Linked DNA regions of Homo sapiens: regions 1, 2, 4 and 5 are each reported to be linked to region 3. Evidence: microRNA targets listed by miRTarBase, many of them from high-throughput screens and not tested one by one. Region 3 holds a microRNA gene; each other region holds the end of a gene's coding sequence.
What was found. The annotated mature microRNA hsa-miR-6513-5p reads UUUGGGAUUGACGCCACAUGUCU and lies in region 3 at 1,063-1,085, opposite strand. An mRNA with a match to its seed (bases 2 to 7 or 8) in the 3' UTR can be bound and repressed. Matches are read on the target gene's strand: a 7mer-m8 pairs with bases 2 to 8, a 7mer-A1 pairs with bases 2 to 7 and ends in A, and an 8mer does both.

Region 1 (3,000 bases), not on the chromosome of region 3:
AAACCTTCACTGGAGAGACTATAATAATCAATTTTGAATATTTGAATATGTGATGAGAGGAATTTTGTGTGTGTGGCTCCCGAGATAAGACAGATAGAAGCAAATTTCAGTTCAGTATATGAAAATTCATTTATTTAGTGAAACCCTGACATTAAAGCGTCCCAACACAAAGCAGATTCGAACATAACAACTGGTGATTGGCTCATCTCACAGGCTCACATCATCAGTGTGTTAACATACAATAGGACTGTACCCTTTTACAGGATTGAGTGTTTTGGATCCCACTCACACACTAAAACCCTGCCATAAAGTTGTATCAATTAGGGCTGTTCAAATGTGAAACTGTATTGGAAAATGGGAAACTTTATCTCCTTATATATGTATATTTTTTGAGATGGCGTTTTGCTCTTTTGCCCAGGCTGGAGTGAAGTGGCACGATCTTGGGTCACTGCAACCTCTGCCTCCCGGGTTTGAGCAATTCTCCTGCCTCAGCCTCCCAAGTAGCTGGGATTATAGATGCCTGCCACCACGCCCGGTTAATTTTTTTTTTGCATTTTTAGTGGAGACGGGGTTTCGCCATGTTGGCCAGGCTGATCTCGAACTCTTGACCTCAGGTGCTTCACCCACCTCGGCCTCCCAAAGTGCTAGCATTACAGGCGTGAGCCACCATGCCTGGCCACCATATGTTTTTAAGTATAGGTTGGATGATAATTTGTTGGGAATACCATAGAAGGGATGATGAAATTTAGGCTGGAGATGATCACCAAGGTACTTTCTATCTCTAAGATCCTGCAACCCTTGAAAGACACTCTATTTGACAGTTTCATGAATAAAGGCAGTGACAATGAACAAATTCATAAATTACGGTGTTACATTACATAAAGCTTAGTTTCTTATTAAAATTGGCAAAACTTGTCAATTGGCATGAAATGTAATGCTGTTAAAATATACTTTCTCTTATGGTTACAAATACTAAGTGGCTCACGCCTGTAATCCCAGCACTTTGGGAGGCCGAGGCGGGCTGATTACCTGTGGTCAGGAGTTCGAGACCAGCCCTGGCCAACATGGTGAAACCCTGTCGTCTCTACTAATACAAAAATCAGCCGGGAGCAGTGGCTCAAGCCTGTAATCCCAGCATTTTGGGAGGCTGAGGCAGGTGGATCATGAGGTCAGTTCAAGACCAGCCTGGCCAACACAGTGAAACCCCATCTCTACTAAAAATACAAAAATTAGCTGGGTGTGGTGGTGAGCACCTGTAATCCCAGCTACTCGGGAGGCTGAGGCAGGAGAATTGCTTGAACCTAAGAGACGGAGGTTGCAGTGAGCTGAGATCATGCCATTTCACTCCAGCCTCAGCAACAAGAGCAAAACTCCATCTCAAAAAATATATATATTTATTAGGACAGAAAAGCAAAACCTTACCATAATTCCATAACTATGATTATTGGAATTACAAAGTAAATGAACACTTCAATTGTCTAATAGCAGTGATTTGTCATTAAGGTCTCAGGTCAATAATACATTTAAAATCTAACAAAGTTTGGAAAGATAGTATCATTAAATTATCTTAAAACACTACATTAGTTCATTATTATCCCTGCAGACAAGGATAAAGATGGTTGGTAACACTATAGGTGGCTAAAACAAAGTAAAAGGATCAAAATGGCAAAATTCTTTACTCTGATCATATCATTTGATTAATCACACTTTTATCTATCACATTTTTAGTTTGGAAATAGTTTGCTTATCAATATAGAATTCTACTTTATTGCACAATGTCCAGTTTGGCAACTTTCAGCTATGCTGTGAAGCTAAACAAAAGCAAAGTTGGGTCTAACAAGCTGAAAGAGTTCTGCTCAAAAACCTATTCTGAAAAAGGAACTTGTCAAAACATTTTCACCTTAAAAAAATTTCAGGCCGGGTGCAGTGGCTCACACCTGTAATCACAGCACTTTGGGAGGTCGAGGCGGGTGGATCATGAGGTCAAGAGATCGAGACCATCCTGGCCAACATGGTGAAACTCTGTCTCTACTAAAATTACAAAAATTAGCTGGGCGTGGTGGCGCACACCTGTAGTTCCAGCTACTCAGGAGACTGAGGCAGGAGAATTGCTTGAACCTGGGAGGTGGAGGTTGCAGTGAGCCGAGATTGCACCACCGCACTCCAGCAGAGCAAGACTCTGCCTCAAAAAAAAAAAAAAAAAAAAATTGAACACAGCTACACATCTTTGTCATTTTTGCTCTACTCAATTCTTTCTGAAAAAGTTTATTATTATTAAGGAAATAAAGTGTGGAAGGATCATAGGAAATACTTGCAATAAAAAGAATAATCATTAACATTGGCAACTGCCACTAGGAAGGTGTATATGCCACATACTACTGATAAAAATTGTAGGAACCCATTGGTAGTTCCCATAACCACCATTGATGTGTTAATTCCCACAACATCAAAAATAAAGAATTAGTTCCACAAGCTGTCTGTCAATAATACTCTGAAGGCAACCTATTCATCAGCACCAGAATCCCACTGATTTTCTTCCACATGTTCACAATCTTTTGCCATCAGTCATCTATCGGATTCTACAACTGTTTGGGAGTGTCAGGCTAACAAAAGTCAAAACTGGGCATTGACATTAATGGTAGTTTACTGATGTTTCCCCTGCAAATCTCGTATTTTCTGATACTAAAATTTTGCACAGAAGTTGGATTTCAAAAGGCTAATTGCATGTTCTATCTGAAATCTTATAATTATAGTACTTCTACGAAAAAAGATGTCTAGTAACATAAATTGCTTCTGCATCGGTTCCACAAACAAGACAAGGACCTAAAACATCCAAAGTGTTCACAGACAGAGACCTACTGGGAAGTAAGCTTGTGATTTCAATTCGGTCTTTTGCAGGATCAGTGCTGAGCCAGGAGCTAATGACAGACTGGTGAACATTAGCTTGGTTACTAATGCTATGAGACAAAAAAGTACTGCTTCTTCCTCCTGGGAGAAAAA
Region 2 (3,000 bases), not on the chromosome of region 3:
GGTTAGTGGGGGGAGCTGCAAGCTGGAAAGGGGGACCCAGGAGCTCTGGCTTCTGACCACACCACCAAGCTGGGACTGAGCCCCAGCCCCCAGGCTCCCCAGCCCTAAAGCCCTGGTCCACGAGTGCTGCTGGTGAGGATAGCCCAGCGCCCCCCTGATGGCCCGTCCCCACCTCCTCCCCTCCGCAGTGCGGCTTCTTCAAGCGAGCCCGCACTCGCGCCCTGTATGAAGCTAAGAGGCAGAAGGCGGAGATGAAGAGCCAGCCGTCAGAGACAGAGAGGCTGACCGACGACTACTGAGGGGGCAGCCCCCCGCCCCCGGCCCACCTGGGTAACACGGCCTCCGGGCCCCCTTCCCCGAGCCCCACAGCTGGCCGGGCCTCTGACTCTGTCCTATCTGCTCCTCTTCCCTTATGGGCCTGCTCTGACCTCATTCTGTCCCCACCACCACCCCAAAGATCAGGTCACTCTGACTGTCCCTCCAGCCCCCTGGGTGTCTGGCTTTCATCAGCCTCCCCCTAAGCCCCTTGGTGACTTGGGACCCCATGAGGGAGGCATAAATCCTCTCTGTGATGACCTTGCTTTCTGGGGATTGGAACAAGGTCAAGGGCAAGGCCAGGCCCCATCTCTGTAAACCACAGCCATGTCCAGAATAATTCTACACTCCCATTTCCACCCCTAGGGAAGGAGGGGAGCAGTAGAGACCCTCCTCCTGGGAACTAGCCTGTTTCCTCCTGAGCAACCCTTCCAGGATAACAAATGGACCCATTCCCAACATTGTGGTCAGGGTAGACTGCCCAGTCTTCCTGGCCATTCCATCCACTGTCTCTGCAGCTGCCCTCGGTCTCCATCTGCCTCTTCCTCTGCTCTCTGCCTTCCTCAACTCCTTCTTCCTCTGGGGCCTGGGGTGGAGAAACTCATCCTCCGTATCTCAGTGCAGAGAGATGGGATGCGTTTCGGTCAAGAGTTCTGGCTTTGAGGAGTTCTGGGTGGGAGAGGGAGAGGCCTGGCACTCCTTCCTGGTGGCTCAAACTCTGGATGCTAATGTTCTTTCTCTTCTCCCTCCAACTCCAGTGTGACTTCTTTAAGCGGACCCGCTATTATCAGATCATGCCCAAGTACCACGCAGTGCGGATCCGGGAGGAGGAGCGCTACCCACCTCCAGGGAGCACCCTGCCCACCAAGAAGCACTGGGTGACCAGCTGGCAGACTCGGGACCAATACTACTGACGTCCTCCCTGATCCCACCCCCTCCTCCCCCAGTGTCCCCTTTCTTCCTATTTATCATAAGTTATGCCTCTGACAGTCCACAGGGGCCACCACCTTTGGCTGGTAGCAGCAGGCTCAGGCACATACACCTCGTCAAGAGCATGCACATGCTGTCTGGCCCTGGGGATCTTCCCACAGGAGGGCCAGCGCTGTGGACCTTACAACGCCGAGTGCACTGCATTCCTGTGCCCTAGATGCACGTGGGGCCCACTGCTCGTGGACTGTGCTGGTGCATCACGGATGGTGCATGGGCTCGCCGTGTCTCAGCCTCTGCCAGCGCCAAAACAAGCCAAAGAGCCTCCCACCAGAGCCGGGAGGAAAAGGCCCCTGCAATGTGGTGACACCTCCCCCTTTCACACTGGATCCATCTTGAGCCACAGTCACTGGATTGACTTTGCTGTCAAAACTACTGACAGGGAGCAGCCCCCGGGCCGCTGGCTGGTGGGCCCCCAATGACACCCATGCCAGAGAGGTGGGGATCCTGCCTAAGGTTGTCTACGGGGGCACTTGGAGGACCTGGCGTGCTCAGACCCAACAGCAAAGGAACTAGAAAGAAGGACCCAGAACGGCTTGCTTTCCTGCATCTCTGTGAAGCCTCTCTCCTTGGCCACAGACTGAACTCGCAGGGAATGCAGCAGGAAGGAACAAAGACAGGCAAACGGCAACGTAGCCTGGGCTCACTGTGCTGGGGCACGGCGGGATCCTCCACAGAGAGGAGGGGACCAATTCTGGACAGACAGATGTTGGGAGGATACAGAGGAGATGCCACTTCTCACTCACCACTACCAGCCAGCCTCAGAAGGCCCCAGAGAGACCCTGCAAGACCACGGAGGGAGCGACACTTGAATGTAGAATAGGCAGGGGGCCCTGCCCCACCCCATCCAGCCAGACCCCACGCTGACCATGCGTCAGGGGCCTAGAGGTGGAGTTCTTAGCTATCCTTGGCTTTCAGAGCCAGCCTGGCTCTGCCCCCTCCCCCATGGGCTGTGTCCTAAGGCCCATTTGAGAAGCTGAGGCTAGTTCCAGAAAACCTCTCCTGACCCCTGCCTGTTGGCAGGCCCACTCCCCAGCCCCAGCCCCTTCCATGGTACTGTAGCAGGGGAATTCCCTCCCCCTCCTTGTGCCTTCTTTGTATATAGGCTTCTCACGGCGACCAATAAACAGCTCCCAGTTTGTATGCAGCTGCATCTGCTTCCACCCACTCCCCAGCCTTTACCAACCCCAGGTCAATGGATGATGATATCATCCAGCCAACACCTAGGTAGGATGAAGCCAGGTCTGGGGACTTGCGGGTTTGAGGGTAAAGATTGATGGAGGTGGCCAGGTGCAGTGGCTCACACCTGTAATCCCAGCACTTTGGGAGGCCAAGGCATGCAGATCACCTGAGGTCAGGAGTTCAAGACCAGCCTGGCCAACATGGTGAAACCCTGTGTCTACTAAAAATACAAAAGTTAGCTGGGCGCAGTGGCGCATGCCTATAATCCCAGCTACTTGGGAGGCTGAAGTAGGAGAATCACTTGAACCCAGGAGGCAGAGGTTGCAGTGAGCCGAGATCGTGCCATTGCACTCCAGCCTGAACGACAGAGCAAGACTCTGTCTCAAAGAAAAATAAAAAGATTGATGGAGGTGACACTGGCCCCTGCTCTCAGGAATCCTCTCATCTAAGGGTCAGTCATAGAGATCCAGAACAGAAGATGAGGGGTAAGCCTTGGGAGACCTGGATGAAACCCAG
Region 3 (3,149 bases):
CAGGAGGACAGGAGTAGTCACCCTGAGGCTTGTCTGCCCCACCCAGGCCAGCCAGGCAGCCCTGGCTTCACCTTCTCTAATTGCCCATGGTCACCCTGAGAGCAGGGCCCACCGCCACCCACACCCCCAGCAGGTGACCCTGAACCCCCAGGGCAGTAGGAGTGGGTGGCAAAGCCTAGAGACTTACACAAAGGTGAAGATAGCAATGATGGCCACAGTGATGAGCAGCTGCACGGAGATGATGGAGTAAACCTGGACACAGACGGCCGGGCATGGGTCACCATCCGGCACCCCTGGCCTGCCCCAGGAAGCTGCCAGCCCCCAGTACTTTCCTCCCACTCAAGAACCCTCCCTAGCTGCAGCCTGGCCCAGAGGCGACCCCAGTGAGATGCCTGGCTCAGAGGCAATGTGCACTTCTTCCTCAGCCCCGCTCCCATGCTCCCTGCCATCTCCCCTCCTGTCCAACACCAGCCTCGGTGACTACTGACTTGCCCTGCCTGGCCACCATACTCTACCAGTATGGCCTCTGCACTCCCAGCAGCTCAGTCTGCACGCTCTATGCAGCTGTGAGATGGAGAGGGTGGGTTACAAGCGAGTAGGATCATTTCTGGCTCCAAGCTGCCTATAGTCTAAAGGGAGAAAGATGTCTGGGGAAGGCGGGCGCTGTGGCAGAACCCACCTAGGAGATTCTCCCAGACTGAATGTGTCCTCCCAAAACATGGTCAAGAAGAGAGGTGCAAAAAGAGAGGGAACCCTGGGGTTAGAGAAGCCAGGTGCCCCTCTGAGAAGCAGACAAGGCTAGAGAAGACAGGCAGCCAGTGTATTTCATGGAATTGATGCCCTGGGGCTACTGTGGCCTACCCACTTCCCATTCCCACAGCCTGAGGGGCCCCAGGTACACCCACCTCCCAGCGCGTATCTTACCTTTCGGATAAAAGTGTGTCGCACTTTCCGGTCATCCCACTCTCCAGGCCCGAAGCTATCACTCACTGCTCTCTCCTCCCCATCATAGCCATGGCCTGGGCCTAGGGACAGATGACACTTGACTCAGCTGGGGACCTGAGACATGTGGCGTCAATCCCAAAGCCTCCCTGACAATCTCAAAGTCTCAGGGATCTCCAGCCAAAAGACAAGTGTTATAACAGGAACTCTTCTCCCAAGCTGGGGTCTTCTAGACACCCTCAGAGTGACCCAGAGCCGGCCTGTCACGAGGGGGCTTAGGTGGGAAACGTTCCTCACGTGCATCTGTGGAGGGCTCCTGTGTGCCCAGCCCACGCCACTGGGGGTTCACTGGGGGGTCACGATGTAGTGGGGAAGCCAGGCAGGAGCAGGTATGGGCATCCACTGGGGCAGCCAGCCAGGGCAGAACAGGGGATGGGGACAGAGGGTAGGAGAAAAGGAGGGCGGCAGAGCGCAGTTTGTGCAGCAGCAGGGATAGAGGTGAAGACAGGGATCTGCATCAGCCTCACAGAGGCAGGTGTGCAAAGGGTGTGCGTGACTGTGCAGGACCCATGCGCAGATCCGCACCAGCGCACATGTCCAGGTGAGAGCTGGCTGACACCCCTCTGGGGTTCAGAGATGCTGCAGGGCTGCAAACATTCCCTGAATGCCTGAATGCCTGAATGCCTCTTTGGGAACTACTTTTAAAATCCACGCTTGAGCCACCCAGGAAGACTCACTGCACTCTAACTTCACCTCATTTCCTTTTTTTTTTTTTTTTTTTTTTTGAGATGGAGTTTCGGTCTTGTTGCCCAAGCTGGAGTGCAAAGGCGTGATCTCGGCTCACCGCAACCTCCACCTCCCGGGTTCAAGCAATTCTCCTGCCTTAGCCTCCTGAGTAGCTGGGATTACAGACGCATGCCACCACGCCCGGCTCATTTTTTGTATTTTTGGTAGAGACAGGGTTTCACCATGTTGGCCAGGCTGGTCTCAAACTCGTGATCCGCCCATCTCAGCCTCCCAAAGTGTTGAGATTACAGGCATGAGCCACCGTACCCGGCCTCTTTTTTTGTTTTGTTTTGTTTTTTGTTTTTTTTTTGGTTTTTTTTTTGAGACAGAGTCTTGCTCTGTTGCTCAGGCTGAAGTGCAGTAGTGCGATCCTGGCTCACTGCAACCTCCACCTCCTGGGATTGCAAGCGATTCTCCTGCCTCAGCCTCCTGAGTAGCTGGGATTACAGGTGCACGCCACCACACCCGGCTAAGTTTTTGTATTTTTAGTGGAGATGGGGTTTTGCCATGTTGGCCAGGCTGGTCTCGAATTCCTGACCTCAGGTGATCTGCTCGCCTCAGCCTCCCAGAGTGCTGGGATTACAGGCGTGAGCCACCGCGGCCGGCCTCACCTCATTTCTGACCAAACACAAGCATGTCCCTGCCATGATGTTTACCAAACTTGGCTCCAAATGTCTTTTGCAAAAGTCAGATTTCACTTTAAAGGATGAGGAAAGTGGTTCAGGTTCCCAAAGGAGTTCCTAAGGAAGTCGACAGGTCTGGGAGGTGGCAGCAGCTTGTTGGCCGCTTGTTGGGAAACAGAGCTGGTGCCCTGAGGTAACCCCTCAGGAGTCATTACTTGGCCCAGCCCCATTCTCCTGTGGTGTGTACGTTCTGGGACATGCCTCATGGATCTCCTTGAACAAAGGGGGCAGCAAGTGGCTGGGGGCCAGTTGCTGAGGCAAAAAGTGGAGGGTAACAAAGACAGAAACAGAGGGAGAGATCTCAACAGAGAAGATGAGAAAGGGATTTAAGGGAAACTAGAAGAGAAAAGGGGCAGGAGGCGGTGGCCTCATCTGCTCCAAGTGCTGTCCCTCCCACCCACCTTCCATCTGCCCTTCCAGGACTCACCGTAGTTCATGGGCATCGGGTGGGTGGGGGGCATGGGCTGTGGGTAGCCAGCAGGGTGACCGTAGCCAGGCTGCGGGTAGCCAGGGTAGGCAGGATACCCTCCTGGCAGGACAGATGGCTGCCCATAGCCCCCAGGGGGCGGAGGGCCTGGGTACAGGGGGTTGCGGTCTTCATATGGTGGTGGGGCGCTGGGGTTGGACATGGCTGCTCACGGGCTGAGGGGGAACCCCAGCTGCTGGGACCTGAAATGGGAGAGGAGAAAAGCAATCGTGAATGCCCAGGCCCAGCTCACTCAGCCTCATGGGCCCACT
Region 4 (3,000 bases), not on the chromosome of region 3:
GATTGTGCCGTTGCGCTCCAGCCTGGGCAACAGGAGCGAAACTCCATCTCAAAAAAAAAAAAAAAAGGAAAAGAAAGTCACATTATTATTGTGAATAAATATCTGCATTTCCTTAAGCCTTTGGCAGGCTATGTTACCCCTATCTTTTGAGAATGTACTTGAAAAGTGAGGGCAGTACCTTCACCTTATACCTGCATTTCTTCAGGCTAAGTATCACCTGTTTACTATTTATTATCCATCCTTTATAAGCAACATATTGCAACAGTCTTTTCTAAAAGGATGCCCACTTGTGGCAGCACAGGTTCTGAAAATTTCTTCAAAATCAAGAAATCTGCTAATACATTGAGAGGTTGTGATGGAACAAACACTCTCATTTACATTACATTAATGTAAATCAGGAGAATTTCTTTTGGAGGAAAATTGGCAATATCCATCAGTCTTAAATACGTAACCTTTGTCCCAGTAACTACGCTGCTCCCGATTTATGTGCACATGTGCCAGTGTAGCATAATGTATGAGGAAAGTCAACTCCATCATTAGGAGTAGGCTATTAAGCAGTCACTGAAAGAATGGGTAGACCTATATGCACTAACGTGAAATGTCCACATACAAAGGGAAAAAAGCATGTCACAGCACATATAGGTCACTACCACTTTTAAAAGACACATTTATACGAATGTGCTTTGAATGTCTGAAGGAGACACTAAAACTGGGTAAGAGTGGTTACTTCTGGGGAGAGGACCTGGGGGACTGGGATGAAGAATGGAAAGGAGATGCTGTCTCTGACTTTTGCCCTATTTGAATTTTTTTGTCATGTGTATGCACTTCCTTTTCATTGCTGATGGTTTTTTAAAGGCACCAGACCAGGGAATGTAAGTTACTGAGTGAAGAACTCTCTCACCATTGGTGCTTTTCTGAAGGGAATCTGTGTAGCCCAGATACAAACCCTTGTGTGGGACGGCTGTCCACCTACTACTCGCTGGTTTACCCATTGGACTTGTGTCTGTCCTCCCTAAGGCCAAATTTTCCCCACTCCAGTCTATATGGAAAAAATAAGCCTCTGTGTCTGAAGCCCTATTTCTGGCCTACAAGTGGGGCGTGTGGACACACGAGACAAATGGAGGTCTGTTAATGGTAGGGCAACTGCAAAATAAATCATGCCTGAACACAGGCACAAAATGGAAGTTATCTGGATACATTTGCAAAGATTTATATTCAGAAAGGTAGTTTTGTTATTTATTAAGTGTTTATTAAATGCCTCCCTAAAGGTCCTGGATGCCACTAGAACCTTTAGTTAGGACTGAGATGTATATGCAAGAGTGGCACATATCAAAATATCTGCTCATTGGTTCAGATCCAACGTAAGTTTTCCTTGAACCAGAACCTCATATTAACTTACAGTACTCAATGGCACAGCATCCTCTAATTTAAAGATTTTAAAACAAAAACATAACCAGAAGACCCAGTTTTCAAAATTGCTGTTAAAGGCCAACAAATTAGTGGGAGGGAAGGAATAAAAAGGAATAACCTCTCTTAAAATAACAAATCTACAAAGTCCTCTGCCACAAAAGCAGATCTTTGTCATTTCCCATGAGATAATCATCACCTTGCTGAAAATGAGAAAGGCACCCCCCGCAGGCAGGGGGAAAAAACCCACTCGCTGAAACAGCTTCTACTTGTTTTTACCATATATTCCAGGGGTTATGTGTGTGGAGGGGTTGTTTTTACATTTATACAGTTTACATTGCTTGACCCATAAGTAACACTTGTAAGATTAATAGGGCCATAGTTTTAAAGAGTACTTACATAGCCCCACCATGCATACAGAGCCTTTTTTAATATTGGAAAAAAAAATCAAAAAAAGTTGAATTTTCCATCACTAGGCAATGTAAATTTGACCATCTACATTTATAAACCCTGACTAAAATATAAGCAATCAGTTCATCCATAAATTCTGGTTCCCTGGCAAATCTAGCACTGCAGCGTAACAAACGGCTTACAATTCAGGGATATAAAAATATCAGCTTTAAAATCTGAACTGTACAGTATATACATTAATATTTGCACCGTTAAATTAGGAATACACTTAAGTCTATGAAATACTAAGTTATAAATAGCAATGTTTTTTGTTTTTTTTTTTCAATCTGTAGCTGGCGCTGATACAATACAATGTTTACCTGGCCAAAGAGGGTTCGAGGGGACAAGCTGGCCTCACAATAAGATGCACAGTGTTAGCTAGGTCATCGTGACAGGCATGCCTCACACCAAGACGGACTATCAAGACCTGAGCCGACCTGACTTACATAAATGACAAACACTAGTGCTTTACAAAGGTGGCTGGAGTTCTCCATCTTCTAAAATCAACATCCAATCCCCTTCAGTCAGCATCTTCAGTATTCCCTTGAGGACTGGAAAACCAAAGCAGCTACGTCCATCTGTAACGCACCCGCACCGGACAGGCACGAGATGTCACGTCCACCTGGCACCATCCAAAGAGGGTAAATTGGAGAAATCACACCTTTCAAATGTTAATCTGACACTGTAAACAGCAGTTGAGTTCTCATTTACATGGGCAAAGAAAGCACTTTAAACTATTTTCACAACTTTCCTACGGAAGAAAAGGAAACGATTCAGACGGTTAATGGCTAAGTTTTAAACAAATGCTCTGCATCACTACTTGGTTAAGAAATAATACAATTTTTGCCCTTGTGTCCCTTTTTCTTCTTGGATTTTGTTGTCCTCTGACCAAACTGAGGGGTGGGAAGTGCAGATGGTGGACTAGAAAGGTCATCTGTATAGTAGGCAAATCTCTGTGGCCGGGGTTGAGGGATTGGTTGTCCAAGAAAATATCCTTCTTCTTCCGAGTCGGAAGAGGAGGAGGAGGAAGAACACCAGGAATCATCATCCTCGCCGTAGAGTCCCAGAAACCGATTCATTCCTGGGTTCTGCAGGCCATAATCGGAAGTGGCATGGGCGTACTGTCCGTAGAGATCAGCATTC
Region 5 (3,000 bases), not on the chromosome of region 3:
ACATACAGAAAAGAAGGAAGAGGAAACACATTTAATACTGGTACTGTTTTCAATAACAAATTAAACCAGTGATTCTGAATCCTTCCTGCACATTCAAATTACCTGGAGAACTTTAAAAAAAATACTGATGACCAGGTCTTGTCTCAAATTACATGAAAATGGGAATCAAGATTCAGGCATGGATATTTTTAAAAACTCTCCAAATGATTCTAAAATGCAGTCAGGGTTGAGAGCAACTGATTGAAACCTACATATTTCTTACTGTTCCTTGACTGAGAAGAATGTCCTATAAATATAGAAATAGAACTTTTTCCTTTACAGGTTGGGCATACAAGGGTATCTCCAGTTAGCAGTAACTTATGGAGGGGTAAGTCAAGTTATTAATTTATACTTCATTTCCATTAAAATATCTACTTATACCTCTCTTCATTCCCTGTAATTCTGTACTCTCAAACTCCAAGACCAAGAAGAGTCGAACTACACTTTTATAATAAATTTGTTACACTGAAAATACATTATTCATTCATGCATGTAAGTATTTACTGAATGCCTACTATGTGCAAGGCACTGTGTTAAGTACTGCTATATAGGACCATGTCATGGGAGAATAAATGGGAGTGGCTGAAAATTTTTGTTTTTTAGAATAAACAGCTAAAAAATAATGGAATGAAATTAATTACATGGACCTAAATAAGAGACTAAATTGTCAAAGAGGAAAAGAAAAAGAGGTGCTTATACTAAGGGTCTGATTTTAAGATAGATGGTTATAGCCTATTTGTCCTTTTCCTAATGTTCCTTTACAGTATTTCCATAAGCCTTTGAATATACATAAGGCAAATTCAAAATAGAAAAATAAACCTCATTCAAAGTAGATGTTCCTAATTTTAACCATATTCTGTCTCAAGTAAAGTTCATAAATAAGTACAAATACCAAAAATCTTTATGGGAAGGTAGTTCATACTGACTTGTAGTAGTCTTGACAAGTAATCTTACATAAAAATATTACAGATTCTGGTCCTTGACTATTTCATCATGGAGAAAGTTTACACAACATGTAATTTATTTTGGAAATATATTTATATGCTAAGAAAGCCTAATGTAAACAAATTTGAGTTTTCTTTTATCTTTAAGGAAAGAAGACGCTAAAAAGGGAGGAAAATAGGGGTAGAATCTGTTCAAACCTTGTTAAGTATGCTAAAATCTAGTAATTTAAAATGCTGACTGTTCCCTTCTGAAGAGCCTTGTAAATATCATGTGAATAAATATCTTTTCTAGTTACTAGTGGTATGAACTATGTGATCACTTAAAAAATAATAACTTCTCATTTTTGTGACAGTGTTAAATTTCATTAAGAAGCTAGATAATGTCAGCTTAATACCTATGAAAGGCCTAAACGTTCACCAAAAATATGTTAACCTAGGAGAAAATTGCTGGGAATAAAAACAGAGAAAAAAATGACATAAGACTGTGATCAGCAAAAATTCCAATGGCAAAAACACTTTAGGAAAGTAAAGCTTCCTAGTTGCCTTTAAGGAAAAAAAAAAAACAAAGTGAAATCAAGGTTCAAGGCAAATGGTCACTTGATGTACCTTGGATGCAACATTTTGTCTGAAGTAGAGAAATAGTAAAATATTTCACTAAGTTAAAATATAGTTTTTATATTTTATACCATATTGAATACAGACATAAAAATACCAGTGTTTTTCTCTTGTTTCTTTTCAGACAATTAAGCAAATGTTTTCTTTGGTGCCTGGGAGTTTATCAATATTTAGGGATAATGGAAGATAAGAACTCCAAGACTGACAAGCCTAAAATAGAAGATTCAAAATCCTATACCATAAAAATTACAATCAAAAGTGGACTAAAGAGAAAAGGAGCTTAAAGTTATACTGCAATAGGGCTGATACATATTCTTCCCCCAAATCATACTCTGGCTCCCAAAATAAAAAATACTACAGCCTATTGTGGTTTTAATCTGTGTTTTGAGATTTTTTTCAAATGGAAAGATATTACAGATAGAAACACATCATTCTAGGTTTCAAAATCACCAAAGTCAGTGAGAAGAATGTACATTCATTTAAATGTAATCATTTGTAAATAAAGAAATCTTGAAAAGGCTGAACAGTTCAATCAAATTGAAGAATTGATCTAGATTTTTCATTATTCTTTTTAAATAATGAGTAAGTGTAGATATAGTGTACATACAAGTTGACATTCTGATTCATTCAAAATAGTCACATCCCTTTGCTTGGTTTTGGATGTTCCAGAGACTAAAATTTAATACCATTCATAACATAGTATTTTCAGTAAAAAGAATTATAGAGCAATGAAAAATCAGAAGATGGCTCAGAGAGCCTTATAATCTCTAAATATACACACATTTATAACCTGCATTTATTTTCTAAAGAAACAAATTTTAAGTAATGCTAATTTAACCAATGGAGAAAAAACTTCTATCAAAATATACAATTTCCATTACAGACTAGAAGGCTAATATTAAAAAAATAGTTGTAAGCCAAAAAGTTTGCTTATATGGATGACAGGTATCATCTCCTTGAAGCACAAAGCATCAAATAAGGTCTTATAAAAGATCAATCTGTGACCTTCTTCATTTTTAAGTTCTTGATAAATTCATAAAGCTTGAGTCTCAATTTCCAGAAATGGAGGAGCCAAATAATTCAGAATCTCAAGTGCGATTTATGCTTTACCATGTACCTGAAAAAAATATTATGGTAGGTTATAATGACTATAGGAATTTTAGAATTTTTAGAATAATGCATGTAAAAACAAGTTGACATTTCTTAAAACTTAAAATCAACAGAATAAAATGCTGTTTTCTAGAAAACTGGAAATATAAAGACTCTGGAATAAGCTAGAAATAACACTCCTCTTATTAAGTAATATAATCTAAGAGCTTCTAGCTAAAATAATATATGTTTCACAGATATGAGAGACTTGCACCAAAAATGTTACAGATTTTAAGGAGCATACCTCAAAGAG

Region 1: the mRNA of NUP43 is a reported target of hsa-miR-6513-5p. Seed matches in the 3' UTR shown: 7mer-A1 at 2,589-2,595, 7mer-A1 at 1,953-1,959, 7mer-A1 at 1,139-1,145 and 7mer-A1 at 1,003-1,009.
Region 2: the mRNA of ITGA3 is a reported target of hsa-miR-6513-5p. The part of its 3' UTR that is shown has no 7-base or 8-base seed match.
Region 4: the mRNA of PRICKLE1 is a reported target of hsa-miR-6513-5p. The part of its 3' UTR that is shown has no 7-base or 8-base seed match.
Region 5: the mRNA of CDC73 is a reported target of hsa-miR-6513-5p. The part of its 3' UTR that is shown has no 7-base or 8-base seed match.

Annotation. Positions count from the first base shown.
Region 1 is chr6:149,724,211-149,727,210 of GRCh38, forward strand. NUP43 (nucleoporin 43) reads right to left here. Exons shown (of 8, transcript NM_198887.3): 8 at 105-2,988. The coding sequence ends at 2,759. Among named protein-coding and RNA genes, the nearest start is that of LATS1, 7.6 kb to the left of the region's middle. RefSeq lists a silencer at 317-519.
Region 2 is chr17:50,088,037-50,091,036 of GRCh38, forward strand. It overlaps ITGA3 (integrin subunit alpha 3), which reads left to right. Exons shown (of 26, transcript NM_002204.4): 25 at 189-330; 26 at 1,074-2,445. The coding sequence ends at 299. Among named protein-coding and RNA genes, the nearest start is that of PDK2, 5.8 kb to the right of the region's middle.
Region 3 is chr2:218,279,102-218,282,250 of GRCh38, forward strand. It overlaps MIR6513 (microRNA 6513), which reads right to left and starts at 1,087; the gene lies at 1,024-1,087. All of the region lies in intron 2 of PNKD (PNKD metallo-beta-lactamase domain containing), which reads left to right. TMBIM1 (transmembrane BAX inhibitor motif containing 1) reads right to left here. Exons shown (of 12, transcript NM_022152.6): 2 at 2,839-3,080; 3 at 925-1,025; 4 at 188-252. The coding sequence starts at 3,040.
Region 4 is chr12:42,457,128-42,460,127 of GRCh38, forward strand. PRICKLE1 (prickle planar cell polarity protein 1) reads right to left here. Exons shown (of 8, transcript NM_153026.3): 8 at 1-3,000. The coding sequence ends at 2,682. Among named protein-coding and RNA genes, the nearest start is that of PRICKLE1, 130 kb to the right of the region's middle.
Region 5 is chr1:193,250,391-193,253,390 of GRCh38, reverse strand. It overlaps CDC73 (cell division cycle 73), which reads right to left. Exons shown (of 17, transcript NM_024529.5): 17 at 1-2,715. The coding sequence ends at 2,679. Among named protein-coding and RNA genes, the nearest start is that of LINC01031, 53 kb to the left of the region's middle.